Regions from separate parts of the Homo sapiens genome. Here region 2 is linked to region 1. A link means that fine-mapping ties the variant in region 1 to the plasma level of a protein whose gene starts in the linked region. Region 1 holds a variant in brackets. A gene starts in the other region. All regions are shown on their forward strands.

Evidence for each region. PIP is the chance, under the fine-mapping model, that this variant and not a neighbour inherited with it causes the effect. The UK Biobank Pharma Proteomics Project read protein levels with antibody pairs (Olink). The fine-mapping took linkage between variants from a reference panel, not from the people measured, so its PIPs are less certain.
Region 2: F10 starts here. The variant in region 1 is fine-mapped to the plasma level of the F10 protein (UK Biobank, PIP above 0.99).

What each region holds. Positions count from the first base shown.
Region 1 is chr9:114,312,046-114,321,157 of GRCh38, forward strand. It overlaps LOC105376224 (a long non-coding RNA gene), which reads right to left and starts at 6,398. Exons shown (of 3, transcript XR_930255.3): 1 at 6,149-6,398. It overlaps COL27A1 (collagen type XXVII alpha 1 chain), which reads left to right. Exons shown (of 61, transcript NM_032888.4): 61 at 1-466. RefSeq lists an enhancer at 5,824-6,118. The variant A/G (reference allele first, on the strand shown) is at 4,962.
Region 2 is chr13:113,119,143-113,128,254 of GRCh38, forward strand. F10 (coagulation factor X) reads left to right here and starts at 3,657. Exons shown (of 8, transcript NM_000504.4): 1 at 3,657-3,783. The coding sequence starts at 3,714. F7 (coagulation factor VII) reads left to right here. Exons shown (of 8, transcript NM_019616.4): 8 at 1-1,543. It overlaps F10-AS1 (F10 antisense RNA 1), which reads right to left. Exons shown (of 3, transcript NR_126424.1): 3 at 9,013-9,112.

The DNA of each region.
Region 1 (9,112 bases):
CGTCCTCTGAATTGTGCTACATCAGCGAACAAGTCGGCGCTTGAATTGGATTTTGAGGTTATTTTAACCATGGAATTATTTTTATAGAAGGGGAAAATGTATGTGAAAGTCTCTATTTGTGTATTTCTCTCCTAAAGTTGTGTCTCTTTGGGAATTGGATTTGATTTTTATTATTTAATACCTCACTTTGGCCCGTCCCCCCTCCCAACACTTCTGTATCCTCGCCCTGCCGCCCCAGCCTGGACGCTCTGCGTGGAAGTGCGTGTTTGTAGCAGCTCGGGCCTCATCTCAGCGCTCGGATCCCTCCTGCTGCCAGAATCCACTGGCCTCTGTCTCATTCTTGGGTTTTCCTGCTGTCTTCGTTTACGTCTCTGTCCACATGTCAGTGTATTAAAACCCCAATGGGTTCCGTTTCTCCTTTTCCCCTCTGGATTTTAAATAAATATTTAAAACTGAGGCAATGGAATGACACGCCTGTGGTCCCGTGCTGCTTCTCAAAGCTCAGGGGGGCAGTTTCTGGCTGGGCTGGGATAGGGAGTGGGAGGAGATGCTCAGAGGATGTCCTCCTTACGCTGTAACAAATACCACAAACTTGGTGGCTGCAAACAACACAGAACCGTCTCTCTCGCAGTTCTGGAGGCCAGAAGTTCACACAGGCAGTGTTGGCAGGGCCACACTCCCTCCAAAGCCTCAAGGGGAGGATCTTTCCTTGCCTCTTCCCGCTCCTGGTAGCCCCAGTCATTCCTTGGCTTGCAGCTGCAGCACTTCGGTCTGTGTCCCTGTGGTGACACGTGTTCTGATGTGTCTCTCTGCTCCATCTTCTCTTTATGAGGACCCCAGTCATATTGGATTAGAGCCCACACTCATGACCCCACCTTAACTTACTTTCATCTGCAAAGGCCTTATCTCCAAATGAGGTCACATTCACTGGTGCAGGGGGTTAGGACATATCTTTTGGGGGGACACGATTCAACTCCTAACACACAGGGAGGAGGTACACTGAGGTTAACATGAGCAATTTGTTTTTATTATTATTGTGGTTAATTACACATAACATAAAATTTGCCACTGGTGATAGTACATTCAGAATGGTGTGCAACGTTACCATGATCTAATTTCGTATTATTTTCATCACCCCTAAAGGAAACCTGTACCCATTTTAGCAGTCCCACCCTCCCCCAACCCCTGGAAAATCACCAGCCTGCTTTCTGTGTCCACGGCTCTGCCTACTCCAGACATTTTATATTACATTGGTGCCAAAGTAATTGCGGTTTTTGTCATTACTTCTAAATGGCAAAAACCGCAATTACTTTGGCACCGACCTAATACAAGTGGAATCATACAGTATGTGGCCTTTTGTGACCCCGGCCTCTTTCACTCAGCGTGATGTTTTCAAGATTCATCTGTGTCGTAACGTGTATCAGTACTTCATTCTTTTTATGGTTGAATGTACTCCATTGCATGGATAAACCACATTTTGTTTACCTACTCATAAGCTGATGGATATTTGAGCCAAACTGGTGGACATTTGGGCTGTTTCTACCTTTGGCTATTGTGAATAATGCTTCAAAAGGAGTGATCCCTGCCTGTCACATTCTTGAGAGAAGTCACAATAGTACCTGCCACGGAAGAAGTGAGTGGGTGTGAGTCTGGGAGATGGCGTTGCCAGACTTAAAAAATAAAACTATAGGATGCCCAGATCAATTTGAATTTCAGATAAACAATAGCTATTTTTTAGTACAAGTATGCTCCATGCAATTTTGAGGAAATGCTTATGCTAGAAATCTTTTTATTTGTTATTTATCTGAAATTTATACGTATCTGAGTATCCTGGCCTGGAGCCCACATTTCCTGACCCTTGTTTCAGATCTCTTTCTTCCTCAGCTTATTCCTCCTTCCCTGGGACAATGAATAATCAGAACTTTTCTGCCATTCTCATTGAGGAGAAAGAGCACATCACTAACAGTTGAGTTTATACCCAGGATTTTATATTTTAAAAACTTGCAGCCGGGCGCGGTGGCTCACGCCTGTAATCCCAGCACTTTGGGAGGCCGAGGTGGGCGGATCACGAGGTCAGGAGATCGAGACCATCCTGGCTAACACAGTGAAACCCCGCCTCTACTAAAAATAGAAAAAAAATTAGCTGGGTGTGGTGGCGGGTGCCTGTAGTCCCAGCTACCCAGGAGGCTGAGGCAGGAGAATGGTGTGAACCTGGGAGGCGGAGCTTGCAGTGAGCTGAGATGGCGCCACTGCACTCCATATTAAGGGATTTATTATATGAAATTGGCTCATGCAATGATGGAAGCTGACAAATCTTAAGATTGGCTGCTGGCAGCTTTGAGACCCAGGAAAACCCAACGGTTCAGTTCAAGTCCAAAGGCAGGGAAAAAACCTGTCCCAGCTTGAAGGCAGTCAGGCAGAAGGAATTCGCTCGTACTCAGCCTGTTTGTTCTATTCAGGCCTTCAACTGATTGGATGAAGCCCAGCCACATTGGGGAGGGCCATCTGCTTTACTCAGTCTCCCATGGGATTACCCAAATGTTAATCCCATCCAAAAACACCTTCACAGACACACCCAGAATAGTGTTTGGCCAAATATCTGGGCACCCTGTGGCCCAGTCAAGGTGATACATAAAATTAACCATCACACTCCTCAAGCTGAGGTTGAAAGAGAAGGAATAGAAGTGAGCCAGATGGGGAAGGGCACTTGGGGTAGAGGGAACAGTGCCTGCCAAGGCCCAGAGGTAAAGGTAGCACTTTGCATTTGGGAACGGTAAGTGTTCCCATGTGGGGCTGCAGGAAAGGGTGAGGAAGCCTGCGGTATGGAGCTGGGAACATGACAAGTCACAGGTTTGCACAGATGAGCAGAGGTCTGAGTTGGCAAGTTGGGTTTGACTGCCATGGGGCCCTGGAGCAGAGCCATCCAGGAGGCAGCTGCCTGCGCTGCGAGGAAAGGAGAGAGGTCTGCACTGCACTCAGAGCTCTGGAGGCATCAGCAGTTTCTGCTAGGCCTGGAAGACATGGGTAGAGATTGAAAAAGCCAGCCAGAAGGGCCAGAGGGGGAAAGCAAGAAGAGCCATGTTAGAACTGTGACACTCACGACTCTCGGCCTGGTCTCCAATCCCAGGTGGGCCAGTGAGGATGCTGGAGCTGGGCCAGCTCATTCCCAGCAGGGGCAGATAGGAGGTTGTTGGGGACAGAAGGAAACTTTTCCTAAACTGGCAGTACCCACAGTTCCCAATCTCCTGTTGCACAACTGAGTGTCAGGAAACAGTCAGGTGGACTTCCCAGGCTGGGCCAACTCCAGGGGAAAGCCCAGGCCAGCCTGTTTGCCCTGTTCACAATGAATCAAACCCTAGCTATGGTCACAACCCATAATGGCCGGCAGCCCAGGATTGGAAAAATGAGGAAAAGAAGAGCGAGAAAAAGAGAGGCTGGCAGGCAGATTCCAGTTCCTGACTGGGACATGGCCCTGGGTAGGTCATTCTTTCTCTCTAGGCCTCAGTTTCTCTCTCTGCAAAATGGGGCCGATATGCTCTGCCTTTCTTGCCAGCCACAGAAAGGACTATTGTTCAATAATAGTAGAGTGAACGGTATGAAATAGAATAATATCCAATGCTTTTGGACCTGCAAAACCCAGTTTCATATGGTTCAACCCAAGAATAGCACCATTCAGAAGAATAATGGCTACAATTTCTTGTGCATGGACGGCACACCAGGTGGCATGCTCGGTGCGATCTCATGCGCATGTGCATGTGATCCCACATTTTCATCTCATACACAATCTCGTGGGACACATGTTGTAACCCTGGCTTTTCAGATGAGGAAACTGAAGTTCAAAGAGGTTTCTTAAGTTGCCCAAGATCACAAAACAGGATTTGAACTTGAGAAAATCTTTTTGGGTCTTTCCTCAGCCCAGTCACAGAGTTCCCCATGAGGACAATTTGCTCAGCCTATGTATTCTCATGTGGAAGCAGGTCACAGGTTGGTCTTACACAGACCTTGGCTCTGGCCTTGATGAAGAAGGGTGGAATGTGACTTTTTCAGGAAATGAAGTGTTTCAAACAGGTGCATTTCCCTGATGACTTCCAGCTCACCTGCTGTGTGACGTTTCCCACACTGCCTCGCCTCTCTGGGCCACTTTTTTCCTCATCTATATAATGGGGGGAATGTCTTATTTTCTTGAGCCTAGGATAGACACGTTTTCATGTTTTGATATCTTTAAAAGAGAGATGTAGCTTGCAATCACTGAAGTACATATGCAATGCAGAAATTTTTCTTCCCTCCTCACCCCAGCTTGTCTGGGGGATGGTTAAACTGACAGCGATAGTTATTATAATCAGAAGACCCTTAGGAGCAAATTTATTTTATTTAACAAGCATTTTATGGGTGTGGTAGCTCATGCCTGTAAACCCAGCACTTTGGGAGGCTGAAGTGGGAGGATCACTTGAGCCCGGGAGTTCGAGACCAGCCTGGGCAACATAGTGAGACCTCCCATCCCTACCAAAAAATTTTAAGAACTTTAAAAAACCAAGCATTACAACTATGTACCAATTTAATCTTCATAACAACCCAATGAAGTAGGTACCACTATTATTCTCATTTTACAGGTAGAGATACTGAGGCACAGAGAAGTTCACCAACTTGCGCTTCACCACCAGCCTGTACTGCCTGCCCTGAGGCCTTTTCTCTCTCTTTTGTTCCTGCCTAACTTCTTTTGACATCCTGCCAGGGCCAGATGGAGGATAGGGCCAGACGAGCTAGAAGGACTACTTAAAGCCTCAGTCTTTAGAGGCATTCATGCATACCTGAAATGTTAGGAGACAGAGAAAATTGTACTGTGGTAGGGTAGGTGCCAGATGAGCTTGGAGGAATTACTTGGATAGTCTAAGGTGGAGAGTGAGACCCCCAAGCGGCAGCCTGAGGGACAGTGAGGACACTGAAGACCACTTACTCCTGCC[A/G]AGGAGAGGCACTCGGAAGCGCCTCTGTACTGCATTCACAGTGCACAGCTCCGCTTTGAATGGTGGTAGCTCTCCTTATTCACCCTTCCCCTACACAGGCTGCGCCTGGGATCTCTACACTCGAGCAGACGGAGACCCCAGACCCCATTGGCCTAAGTGCCTGAACGTTATAAATCAAAAGTATTTTAAATGAAGCTGACATGTTTACATTTAAGTTTTAGAAATTTAATTAATTATCCCAGCACTTTGGGAGGCTGAGGCGGGTGGATCACAAGGTCAGGAGATCGAGACCATCCTGGCTAACCCGGTGAAACCCTGTCTCTACTAAAAAAATACAAAAAAATATTAGCCGGGCATGGTGGCGGGCGCCTGTATTCCCAGCTACTCAGGAGGCTGAGGCAGGAGAATGGCGTGAACCCAGGAGGTGGAGCTTGCAGTGAGCTGAGATTGTGCCACTGCACTCCAGCCTGGGCAACAGAGCGAGACTCTGTCTCGAAAAAAAAAAAAAAAGAAATTTAATTAATTAATTAAATCATGTCCAAAAGATTTGTACAACTGAAAATTATTCACGAGGCTAGCATGCAGCCTCTACATGCCCATGTCAAGAACCAGATTCAATTGTCCTGATGCAGTGACTCACAACTGTAATCCCAGCACTTTGGGAGGTCGAGGCAGGCAGATCATTTGAGGTCAGGAGTTTGAGACGAGCCTGGCCAACATGATGAAACCCCGTCTGTACTAAAAATACAAAAATTAGCCAGGTGTGGTGGCAGGCGCCTGTAATCCCAGTTATTCAGGAGGCTGAGGCCGGAGAATTTCTTGAACCTGGGAGATGGAGGTTGCAGTAAGCCAAGATTGTGCCACTGCACTCCAACCTGGGTGACAGAGCCAGACTCTGTCTCAAGAAAATAAAGAGAAAAAGAACTAGATTCAGGCTGTATGTGGGCACCATCTACAGACATCAGACACACACATTTAGGAGTAATAATGATGCAATATTGCCAAATGTTTCTCAGCAACCATGTGCAACTGTTGCATGTACTGTTTATTTCTAACTCAGGAGGATCTCTCTAACCACACATTGCAAGAAAATAGACTTTCAGTGTTTCTGGCAAAACAAAGAGTTTTTTTGTTGGCATTTATGCTGAAAGGGAAGAGTTAAAATGTTAATTTGTCTTTTTTCTTACCTCCAAGTTCACTCAAATCCTCTCTTGAAGCAGTGTCTGTCTCCTATGTCTGCGGTGGCATCATCCACGAAGTATCAGGACATTTGACCTGTTGTTTTCAGAGTCGAGTGCCACATGTAGAGATTGTTTCCTGGGGCCTAAACAGTGTTGGTTGTGAAAGAGAATAATCAGTGATGTGGGTCCCACTGTGCCAGTACCAGGCACCAGATCCCAAAGGACAGAGGTGCTTATCTGTTATTTAATAAACTGTTGTGTGTGGGTGGGTGTGTGGGTGGGTGTGATATGTGGGGCTCTCTAAATCCCTGGGCCCCAATAGTCCAGGTCTAATGGTGGTGCTGTCCCCAACAATGCTCAGCTTCTCCTCAAAATACATGGTATCTGGGCTGGGCACGGTGGCTTACACCTGAAATCCCAGCACTTTGGAAGGCCGAGGCGGGTGGATCACTTGAGGTCAGGAGTTCAAGATCAGCCTGGCCAACATGGCGAAACCCTGTCCGTACCAAAAATACAAAAGAAATTAGCCAGGTGTGGTAGTGACACCTGTAATCCCAGCTACTAGGGAGGCTGGATAGGAGAATTGCTGGAACTCGGGAGGCGGAGGCTGCAGTGAACTGAGATCGTGCCACTGCACTCCAGCCTGGGCGACAGAGTGAAACCTTGTCTCAGATAGATAGATAGATAGATGATAGATAGATAGATAGATAGATAGATAGATAGATAGATGATAGATAGATGATAGATAGATTAGATAGATAGATAGATAGATAGATAGATAGAGATAGATGATAGATGATAGGTAGGTAGATAGATGATAGATAGATAGATAGATAGATAGATAGGTAGATAGATGATAGATAGATAGATGTTAGATAGATGAATGGTATCTGGAGTCTGTCCCCATCATCTCACCCCTGGACCACTGCATCAGCTCCAGCTGGTTTCTCAGGTTTAATCTCCTTCCCTAGCCCTCCCCATTCTTCCCATTCAGACAGAGCGATCTTTCTGAAGAACCAATCTGGTTATGCCTTTCCAACCCCTTTGAAATCTTTCCATTTCTCTCCTACACCTCCTAAGTCTAGCGAACCCCTCAGCCTGGCTTCCATGCCCTGCAGGCTCCATCTCCTGCCAACCTCTTCAACATAAAGTCTGGCCACTCCCACTTATCATGTGCTCCAGCTGCACAGACTTTCCAGCTCCCTGATACACCCACTCTCTCACCTGCGCTCTTCCCTCTTGATAACTCCAATCATTGTTTCAAGCCTCAAATTAGAGCAATGCAAATTCAAGAAACAAACCAAGCTGGCAAAAACACAAAAAAGAAAGGAAAAAAAAAGGGTCATTTCTGTTCTGACAAGGATGGGGATAAGGAGACTCACTTGTACACTGCCAAACTGACATTCAAAATCCTTAGTGCTTTTGGATTTGTCATGTTTGGGAGGAGGGTTTTTAAATCATCGGCTTTCTTGAGGTTGAATAAATAAAAGAAAATGCACACATTTTAGGTTTACTGTTCAATTAGTTTTTACAACTATACGTGTGTGTGTATAATGGCCACCACGATGACAACCTGGATCGTTGTCATCCACTTCAGTGTTCTCTCATATGCTTTTGCAGTCAAATTGCCCTCTTTTGCCCTTGGCAACCACTGATCTGATTTCTAAAATTATAGATTTGTTTGAGCTGTTCTAGAACAGAACCGTACAGTATATAAGCTCCTTTGTATCTGGCTTCTTTTGTTCAGCATAGTGTTTTTGAGATTCATCCATGGTGTTATATGTATCAATAGTTTAACTATTTTTATTGTTAAGTAATATTCCTTTGTAAGAAAATGCCACATTTTTATTTACCATTTTCCTGTTGATGGGCATTTGGATTGTTTCTTTCTTTTTTTTTGGTTTTTGTTTTTGCTTTTGTTTTTGTTTTTTAGACAGTCTTGCTCTGTCACCAGGCTGGAGTGCAGTGGCACGATCTCGGCTAACTGCAAGCTCCACCTCCCAGGTTTGAGCGATTCTCCTGCCTCAGCCTCCTGAGTAGCTGGTACTACAGGCGCATGCCACCACACTCAGCTAATTTTTGTATTTTTAGTAGAGACGGAGTTTCTCCATGTTGGCCAGGCTTGTCTCGATCTCTTGACCTTGTGATCCGCCCACCTCGGCCTCCCAAAGTGCTGGGATTACAGGCGTGAGCCGTGGTGCCCCACCCTTGGATTATTTCTAATTTTGGCTATTTTGAGCAATGCTGTTATGAACATTAATATGTAAGACTTTGTGCATAGCACGTGGTTTCCTTTCCCTTGGATACTAAGGTAATTTTAAAAGGGAAATTGGCTGCTCTCTGACACTTATCATCAGAGGAAAAATCACAATATGAAATGCTGTTAGATAGGCTGGGAGTGGTGGCTCACGCCTATAATCCAGCACTTTGGGAGGCTGAGGCAGGAGGATCACTTGAGGCCAGAAGTTCAAGACCAGTCTGGGCAACATAGTGAGACTCTGTCTCTACAATTTTTTGTTTTTTAAATTTAATTAGCCAAGTGTGGTGGTGCATGCCTGTAGTCCTAGCTACTCCAGAGGCTGAGGTGGGAGGATTGCTTGAGCCCAGGAGTTTGAGGCTGCAGTTGAGCTATGATTCATACCACTGCACTCCAACTTGAAGAGCCTGAAAAAAAAAAAAAAGTGCTGTAGACATAAAGGACATGACTAAGTAGGTTAGAATATAGTAAGCGGGCCAGGCGCCGTGGCTCATGCCTGTAATCCCAGTACTCTGGGAGGCCGAGGTGGGCAGATTGCTTAAGCTCAGGAGTTCGAGACCAACCTGGGCAACATGATGAGACCCCCATCTCTACAAAAGTACAAAAAGTTAGCCAGGTGTGGTGGCACGCACCTGTGGTCCTAGCTACTCGGGAGGCTGAGCTGGGAGGATCTCTTGAGCCTGGGTGGCAGAGGTTGCAGTGAGCCAAGATCC
Region 2 (9,112 bases), not on the chromosome of region 1:
AGACAGAAACAGAGAGAGACAGAGACAGAGAGAGACTGAGGGAGAGACTCTGAGGACATGGAGAGAGACTCAAAGAGACTCCAAGATTCAAAGAGACTAATAGAGACACAGAGATGGAATAGAAAAGATGAGAGGCAGAGGCAGACAGGCGCTGGACAGAGGGGCAGGGGAGTGCCAAGGTTGTCCTGGAGGCAGACAGCCCAGCTGAGCCTCCTTACCTCCCTTCAGCCAAGCCCACCTGCACGTGATCTGCTGGCCTCAGGCTGCTGCTCTGCCTTCATTGCTGGAGACAGTAGAGGCATGAACACACATGGATGCACACACACACACGCCAATGCACACACACAGAGATATGCACACACACGGATGCACACACAGATGGTCACACAGAGATACGCAAACACACCGATGCACACGCACATAGAGATATGCACACACAGATGCACACACAGATATACACATGGATGCACGCACATGCCAATGCACGCACACATCAGTGCACACGGATGCACAGAGATATGCACACACCGATGTGCGCACACACAGATATGCACACACATGGATGAGCACACACACACCAATGCGCACACACACCGATGTACACACACAGATGCACACACAGATGCACACACACCGATGCTGACTCCATGTGTGCTGTCCTCTGAAGGCGGTTGTTTAGCTCTCACTTTTCTGGTTCTTATCCATTATCATCTTCACTTCAGACAATTCAGAAGCATCACCATGCATGGTGGCGAATGCCCCCAAACTCTCCCCCAAATGTATTTCTCCCTTCGCTGGGTGCCGGGCTGCACAGACTATTCCCCACCTGCTTCCCAGCTTCACAATAAACGGCTGCGTCTCCTCCGCACACCTGTGGTGCCTGCCACCCACTGGGTTGCCCATGATTCATTTTTGGAGCCCCCGGTGCTCATCCTCTGAGATGCTCTTTTCTTTCACAATTTTCAACATCACTGAAATGAACCCTCACATGGAAGCTATTTTTTAAAAACAAAAGCTGTTTGATAGATGTTTGAGGCTGTAGCTCCCAGGATCCTGTGGAATTGGATGTTCTCTCCCTGCCACAGCCCTTGTCAATGATATTTCACAGAGACCCTGGGAGCACCTGCTCAAGAGTCAGGGACACACGCATCACTAAATGCAAGTTCCCAGGCCCTGGCTGCAGTGGGAGGACCTGGCAAGCTGCACTCTTGCTGAGTCCCCAGGGTGGTGGAAGAAGAATGAGAAACACATGAACAGAGAAATGGGGAGGTGACAAACAGTGCCCCCACTCAGACTCCGGCAAGCACGGCTCAGAGAGTGGACTCGATGCCATCCCTGCAGGGCCGTCCTGGGCACCACTGGCACTCACAGCAGCAAGGTGGGCACCATTGGCACTCACAGCAGCAAGGCAGGCACCAGCAACCCACCTCGGGGGCACTCAGGCATCATCTACTTCAGAGCAGACAGGGTCTATGAACTACAGCCGTGGGCTGCTTCCAAGGCACCCTGCTCTTGTAAATAAAGTTTTATGGGAACACACCCATATTAGTGTCCATGGAGTGGCCGTGGCAGAGACGTCCAGCCGGACAGACCAGCTGACCCGCCAAGCCCAGCATGGTTAGTGTCAGGACCTCTGCTGAAGATGCTTGCTGACCCTGGCCAGACCCCGGTTCCTAATGCCCCCTAAACGGGACGGGAGCCAGTGGCGGGCCCTGATCCAGGTCAGAGCTGGCTCTGCTTTCTCTTTTGTCCGAGTGACCATGCCTCAGTTTCCTCATGTGTAAAACAGGAGCCCACCGTGATGCTTATGGTGGGATGAGATCAGCATGGATGGAACAAGGCCCTGGAAGGGCCCATGCCATGGTCATCGACAGCAAAGCCACTCTGCAGACAGATGCTTCAGTGAATTGGTAGAAAATTCTGCAACCAGAATGCCCGGGGCTCCTGAGGGCCTAAGCCCAGCCCAGGGTTCTGGAAGCCACTCTGACTTCTTGGGAGTGGAAGTTGGCAGGACTCTTCCTGGGAAGAAGCGGAGGGTGGGGATGAGAGGACAGTTCAGGAGCCCACCCAGACCCACAGGAGGAAACTAGGGGAGTCATGCGGGGTCCTGGTGGAGCGCCAGCCTCCCTTCCTGCCAATGGGAAATGCAGGCGCCCACCTCATGGTGCTGCCGGAGGAGGGGGCCCGGGACTCCCCAGAGGCTTCGCTGAAGGGCCTGGGCGCCCCCAAAGGCTACATGTTTCATATGGGACGTGCCACCTGCCACGGCTCAGCTCCAGCTTTCTGTGAGTGGCGAGATAGAATACGGGGAGGCCACTGGCCATGGGCCTGGGACAGGGTGGGATGAGGCGGCAGGCTTGGGCCACCAAAGCCAGCATCGCCACCCAGCATTGATGACAAAGACTGCGTGTCTGCCATGAGCATCCTGCTGTTGGTGCACACACCGCATTGGTCTCTCCATACAAACATGCCTAGAGGCGATGTCAGAGGGTGGAGACCAGGAGAGGCAGGAGTCAGACATCTGGTGCCACCAGGAAGGCCCTTCTCAGAGGACCAGGCTGTGCGTGGTGCCCGCCGTGGGAGGCCAGCCTGGCGTTGGCATCCAGCATCATCAGTTTGTGCAGTCGGGTGGGGCTCAGTGAGTGCCTCCTGTGTGCCAGGCACAATGACGCACAATGTGTGCACACCAGGCTCATGTGCAGGTGGCTGCGAGACAGGGCGACCCATCAAGGCAGATGCACCATGAGGCAGTGGCCAGTGCTGTGGGTGTTAGGGGCATTGCTCCCCGGCCACTACGGCATAGCAGGCAGTGATCGCCACACTGGCCAAGCTTTAGACCATTTATTCCAGAGACCCCAGAGGCAAAAAGCCCGGCTGCACCTCCCAGTGACTCCCACAGCCATTGAGCAGAGACACTCAGGACCTTGTGATGGGAGGTTTCTGCACTGGAGAACGAGCCCAGAAGCCCTCTCAGCCTCGGAACAGTGTGGCCAGTGGTGGGCAGGTCAGGAGGGGCTTCAGACACAGCCTGTCCCTCCAGATGGTCACGGGAAGGTCACTCCCCACAGAAGTACGTTTTGGGGCCATGCGGGCACAGAAGGTTTGGGGGTGGGTGGGGCAGGTGCCAGCCTGGCCTGTGGGAGGCCATGGTGCAGATGCCAAGCCCCCCCCGTGACATGAGACCACCTGATACCACCCAGAGAGTGGCTGTGAGCGGAAGGGCCCGCCCAGAAACAAGCAGGGCCTTGGGGCAGAAGTCCTGGGCTCAGATCCCACGCTCACTGCCAGCGGCCTCGGCTCAGGCTTCTGCGCTCTCTAAACTTAGTTTTCTCTTCTGGAAAAATGATGGGGAAAATGATATTTGTATGTGAGGACTGAGAGTTAAATGTAAACATCTGGAAACTACAAAATGAGCACGAAATGATGTTTTTATTCTTAGAACAGAAAGTCCCCACACCCGCGGCCCTGGTGACTGATGAGGATGAGGTTCTGCGGGGCCTCTCTGGCCGCCCAGCTCTGCCTGGGGAAGGTGGGGCCAGAGTGGATGTGTTCCCAGCGTGGTCACTCCCCTGCCTCGCCAGCAGGTCTCGGCTCCAATCAGGAGGCCTAAGCCAAGTGATAAGCAGCCAGACAACAGCCATCCCAGCTGGGGCGTGGACTTTGCTCCAGCAGCCTGTCCCAGTGAGGACAGGGACACAGTACTCGGCCACACCATGGGGCGCCCACTGCACCTCGTCCTGCTCAGTGCCTCCCTGGCTGGCCTCCTGCTGCTCGGGGAAAGTCGTAAGTGCCCCTCGCCCTTCAGACCCAAAAGCAGCGCCAGGGAGCAGGGAGGGGCGGCAGTTGGGGAAACCCTCTCATCTCTGCAGCCTGGACGGTGGGTGCCTTGAGTGCTGCCAGAGGCTGGGCTCGGATGGCTGGGCTTGGCCTTTCCAGCCAACGGCATCCTCAAGGCCAGCTGTGGCTCCCTGGGGCTGAGAGTCAGACGGGCGGATCAGAGGTCACAGAGACAAAAACACAAGGACAGAGTCAGAGAGAGAAAGGGAGAGGGAAGGAGAAACGGAGACACAGTGAGATGGGAGGCCAAGAGGCAGAGACAGAGGTAGAAAGACGGAGACAGAGAGAGAGGGAGGGGTTGGGGCAGGCAGAGACAGGACAGTTAGCCATCTGCCACCACAGGGAGGCACAGGACGAGGGGCACAGCAGAGGAGCTCCCAGGGAGGAGGAGGCTGAGCCGAGCCAGTGCCACCACTCTCGGACTGGCTCCGTCGGGGAAGGAGCTGCCTAATGCACAGCTGGACAGGTGGGGGCAGCAGGGCTGTCCAGGACCCCCGGGTCTGTCCAAAAGCAGAGGCCCAGACAGGACAGAAGCCAGGCAAGCCTGGGGACAGCGGAGGAAGAGGAGGCCCCTCTGGTGGGGACACGAGAGACAGGGACCCTAGACTTGTTTGCATCCTGGACAAAGTGGACAGGCAGGGGCACCAAGGGGACCCAGGCCTGGGAAGGGAATGTGTGAGGGAGAGACGGAGCAGGGGGAGACCCTCGTGGGGTGGAAAGGGGAGACCCCTGGGAAGGCTGAGTGGATCCTCAGTGCATCACTGACCTAAACGGCCCCTCCGCCTGGTGACTTGGAGCTCCAGTCACATCACACGGGGGTCTTCTCCATCCCACCCTCAACCCCCTGCCCTCCCCAGCCTCTGTCCCCTGAGCCACATCTTCCTGTCTCCCACGCGGAACGGGACTCCCGTCTTCATGGGGTACTGTGTGGCTCCAACTCGCCCAGCCTTCTTCCTCCCCCTCAGGCCACACTGCCCCCTGCAGGAGCCCACTGTGATGCTTGTGGTGGGATGAGATCAGCGTGGGTGGAACAAGGCCCTGGAAGGACCCATGCCATCATCATCGACAGCAAAGCTACTCTGCAAACAGACAGATGCTTCCGCGAATTGGTAGAAAATTCTGCAGCCGGAATGCTCTAGGATCCTGAGGCCCTAAGCCCGGCCCGGGGCTCCCGAGGCCCTAAGCCCGGCCCGGGACTCTGGAAGCTGCTCTGGCTTATTGGGAATGGAAGTTGGCAGGACTCCTCTTCCTGGGAAGAAGCAGAGGGTGGGGATGAGAAGACAGGCCAGGAGCCCACCCAGACCCACAGGAGGAAACTAGGGGAGTTATGCAGAGTCCTGGTGGAGCGCCAGCTTCCCTTCCTGCCAATGGGAAATGCAGGCGCCCACCTCGCGGACCTCTGGGTCCACAGGGTATTGGCACCCTTAGCTGTGTGATGCGGGCCTGGCTCATAACCATGGCCTGTGGTGTCCCCGGGGGCCGGCCTGGACCCTGGGTGGACATGGCCAGCCCCGGAGAGCCAGGGCCAGGCCATCTCTCTCCCCTACTCTGCCTCAGAGGCCTCGGCAGCTGCACTGTGGGGTGGGTGGGGCTGAACACAGGTCCCAGAAGGTCCCACTCAGGACCCTGCTGTGCACACTTTTGATTTTAATAAAATCAGAATGCGCACAGCATCTGCAGTCTAGCCTTTAAACGAGCACAGCTGTCCTGGCAGTCACGGAAGTTCTTCTGGGGCGGTGGGACCTCAGCATTCCTTTGCTGGTACTGCTACAAGAAAGGACAATGGACCAAGTAGCTTAAAGCAACAGAAACATTTCTCCCACAGCTCTGGAGGCTGGAAGTTCAAAATCAAGGCGTCAGCGGGGCTGGTTCCTCCAGAGGCTGGGAGAGAGTCTGCTCTAGGCCTGTTTCCTGGCCTCGGGGTGCCAGCGGCCTCACAGCCCATGGCTTGTGGGAGCATTGCTCCCATCGCTGCCTCCATCATCGCATGGGGTTCTCACCATGGCTGTTTTTCTGTCTTCTTTTCTCTCAGAAGGACACCAGTCATTGGATTTAGGGCTCACTCTACTCCCATAAAATGTCTTCCTAACTAAATACATCACAAAAGTTCTATTTCCAATTAAGGTCAGGTTCTGAGGTTCTGGGAAAGACATGAATTTGGAGGGACATTATTCAGCCCTGTCCTGCCACCTGTGAGTGTTTTCTGCAATCCAACTTTTTATTTTAATAAAATCAGAATACGCAGAGCACCTGCAGTGCCAGCCTTTAAACTACTGCTGTTGTACTGGCAATCATTAAAGCTACGTGGCTTCAGTTTCAATCTTTACATTCAACAAGTTTAAACCCATTCTTCATGAGTTTGGACCTTACTGACTGAAAATTTTGCTTGCTGGTAAAACTTGCTCAAATGCAGTTGCTGACTGTGGAATTCACTGATGTTGCCAAAACAACAAACACAACTGTGTGCTCGAGGATTGCAATGCTCCCAACAGCTTCTGAAGAAACAAACCACACGACAAATGTCTACCAATCTGGATGCTCCATATCAGAGTTCTAGAGTGTTCCATTAATTTCTTGAGACAAGTGCCTAAAAACCTTGTTTTAATTTCGTTTTGCCAAAATCCCATTTTACTCACATCAGAAAGTGTGGCCACGTGGCCCAGACCCGGCCTGCTCAGTCTGACTGAAGCGTTGATGCGACTCAGCCATAACAGATAGCAGAAGCGCCCAGATTCAGTCCAGAGGGCTGAGCCAGGCACGCCATCTTTCCTTCATTCCCTCAACACATATTGGTTAAGTTCCGGCCGTGCTAGGCACGGGCATACAGCTGTGACCAAACACGTCAAGTCTTTTTCCAGCGGAGGGAAGGATAAGCCTGTCAGCATGTAATGTCAGAGAGGGGTTGGGTGCTAGAAGACAAATAGCACAGTGTAAGGGGATGAAAGAGACACGAGTGGGGGCAACGTCAGAGGGCGTGGTCAGGGAGGGTGTCTCGGAGGGCGCTGGGCCTGAGCCACTTGGGTATCTGTGGAAAGAATGTTCCAGACAGGGAGGTGACTGGTGCAAAAGTCCTGGGGTGTGAGTGTTGGGCTCAGCCAGGGTCAGCGCAGAGCCCAGTGTGGCAGAGAGAGGTGAATGAGGGCAGAGTTGAAGGTGGTGAGGCCTGGGAGGCCTGGCCATGGGAAGACCCTGGGCTCTGTTCTAAGACCACTAGAGGCAGATTCTGGGTAGTCCTTGACTTCCTTGCATCACCCTTTCCACCCCGTGCCTGCCACCTGTACCCTCTTCCTCACACAGTCCAGCTCAACCTTATAGGCCGTGTCCTACCCCCATGAGCTGGGGAGAGCTGAGCAGGCTTCAGGGAGATGGGAAAAGGCGGGAACTGGACAGGGGCTGCAAAGGAAAGGTGACTTCTTACTGGTCAATCAGCCTGGGGATGCTCGGGGGTGGATGCCAAGGGGAACAGAGCTGTGGCCGCTATCACAGAACAGCGAGTTCCTCTAAGAGGTCAGAGGAGGCGCAAGGGATCGACCAGAGACAGTGAGGGCGTCAGGCTCCAGTTGAGTGGGGACCAATCCTTGTGGCAAGTCTGTGAACCATCACTGTGGCTCTAGGGTAGCAGAGAAAAAAGCAGGCATATGTCCATCTGGCCACAAGGAAGGAGACCAAGGGGAAGAGAGAAGGTACCAAGAGAGGTGTTCACATGGAGGTGCGTCAGAACACCGAGGGCAAGGCAGAACGCGGTCTTCAGACCCCAACTGGAGCCCAGGAGGCCCGCGAGTCCCAGTTTGGGAAACACTAAGCCAGGCTTGGATAACTTGTCTGAGGCTGTGGTCATCCCAACATGAGAGCCAGAGGCCCCAAGGGAGATGGGCATTCCCCACCCCTCAGCTTCCTCAGTGCCTTTTGTGGAGTGGAGGTGACATGAGGCTGCAGGTTGCAGGGAGCCACGTGTGGGCTGCATTTCAGAGCAAGTGTGTGGGAGTGGAGCAGACACGCAGAGTAATGGGGCAGGGTCAAGAAATAATAAATCTAAGTCTAGCGTTGGTGGGATAATGTCGGTGTCACTAAAAGAAATGGGGAATTTGGAAGGTAAAGTAACTGGAGGTAGGAATGAACCCAAGATTTACTAAGCACCTTCTGTATACCAAACTCAACACTAGGAGTTTATACAATCTTTAAAACAGCTCTAAGAGTAGATATTATAATTCCCTTCTGCCAATAATAAATAATAAGTGACTAAGGTGTTTTTGAAGCTCAAGATTGCTTGATTCTGCAGTCTTGTTTTAAATTTTGGACATGGAGAGTTTGGAGTTCTGAGATGAGGGAAGGCATCTGTCATAGTGAGAGAGCTGAAAACATGGAGCTCAGGACAAAAGTCAGTGCTAGAGAGATCAGTTGGAAGAGTTATCTTTATTGTAGTGAGACATTGAATTTTTCAGTGGAAAAAAAGCACAGAAAAAGACTACAGAGGGCCAAGAAAAGAAACTGAGGCTGTCAAAATGAAAAGAGGAGGAGGAGTGGGTGAGAGACAAAGGAGACACAGGCAGAGAGATGTGGACAGCACAGCCCACAGACACACACTCTACAAGGGACACAGACTCTCGGATCCAGGGCATTTTAACCAGCAGATCAAGACTCATTTGCCAGTCATGAAATCAACTCAGTATTTTTTTTTAAAAGAGTAGAATCAAATAGAAAACTTTGTACTAAGTACTGTATTTTAGGAAATACTAATAAATACTATTTCTTGAAAGTTGGCATGTATGTGTGTCCTGGCACTTCATAAATTGTACTATTATAGTTTGTAATTGAAACAGCATCACCAATCCCCACATAACAAAGAGCAGAGACCTTAAAGACGAGTGGGGCCAGGCTGAAGGGGCACAGCTTGAGCCAAAGCACAGAACAGTGGGCTGAAAGCACCCTAGGGAGGGAGAATTCAAGGAAGGGGGCTTGGGTGGCCAGGCTGAGCCAGCGTGAGCATGTGAGGAGGCTGGTGAGCTGATTGGGTGGGATGTGTCTACTTCTCCAGAGAAGGGTGCATGGGTCTAGAGCAGGTGCCTCATGCTGTACCTCATAGAGAACTGGGGGGAGGGGGGAAATGGGCATTTCCCTCCACAGCCCCCAAAGTGCCTGAGGAAAGTGTTGATAAAGAAGCCAAACTCTGTAAAATATTTGAAGAGATTTATTCTGAGCCAAATGTGAGGACCACGACCCATGACACAGCCTTGGAAGGTCCTGAGAACATGTGTCCAAGGTAGTTGGGTCACAG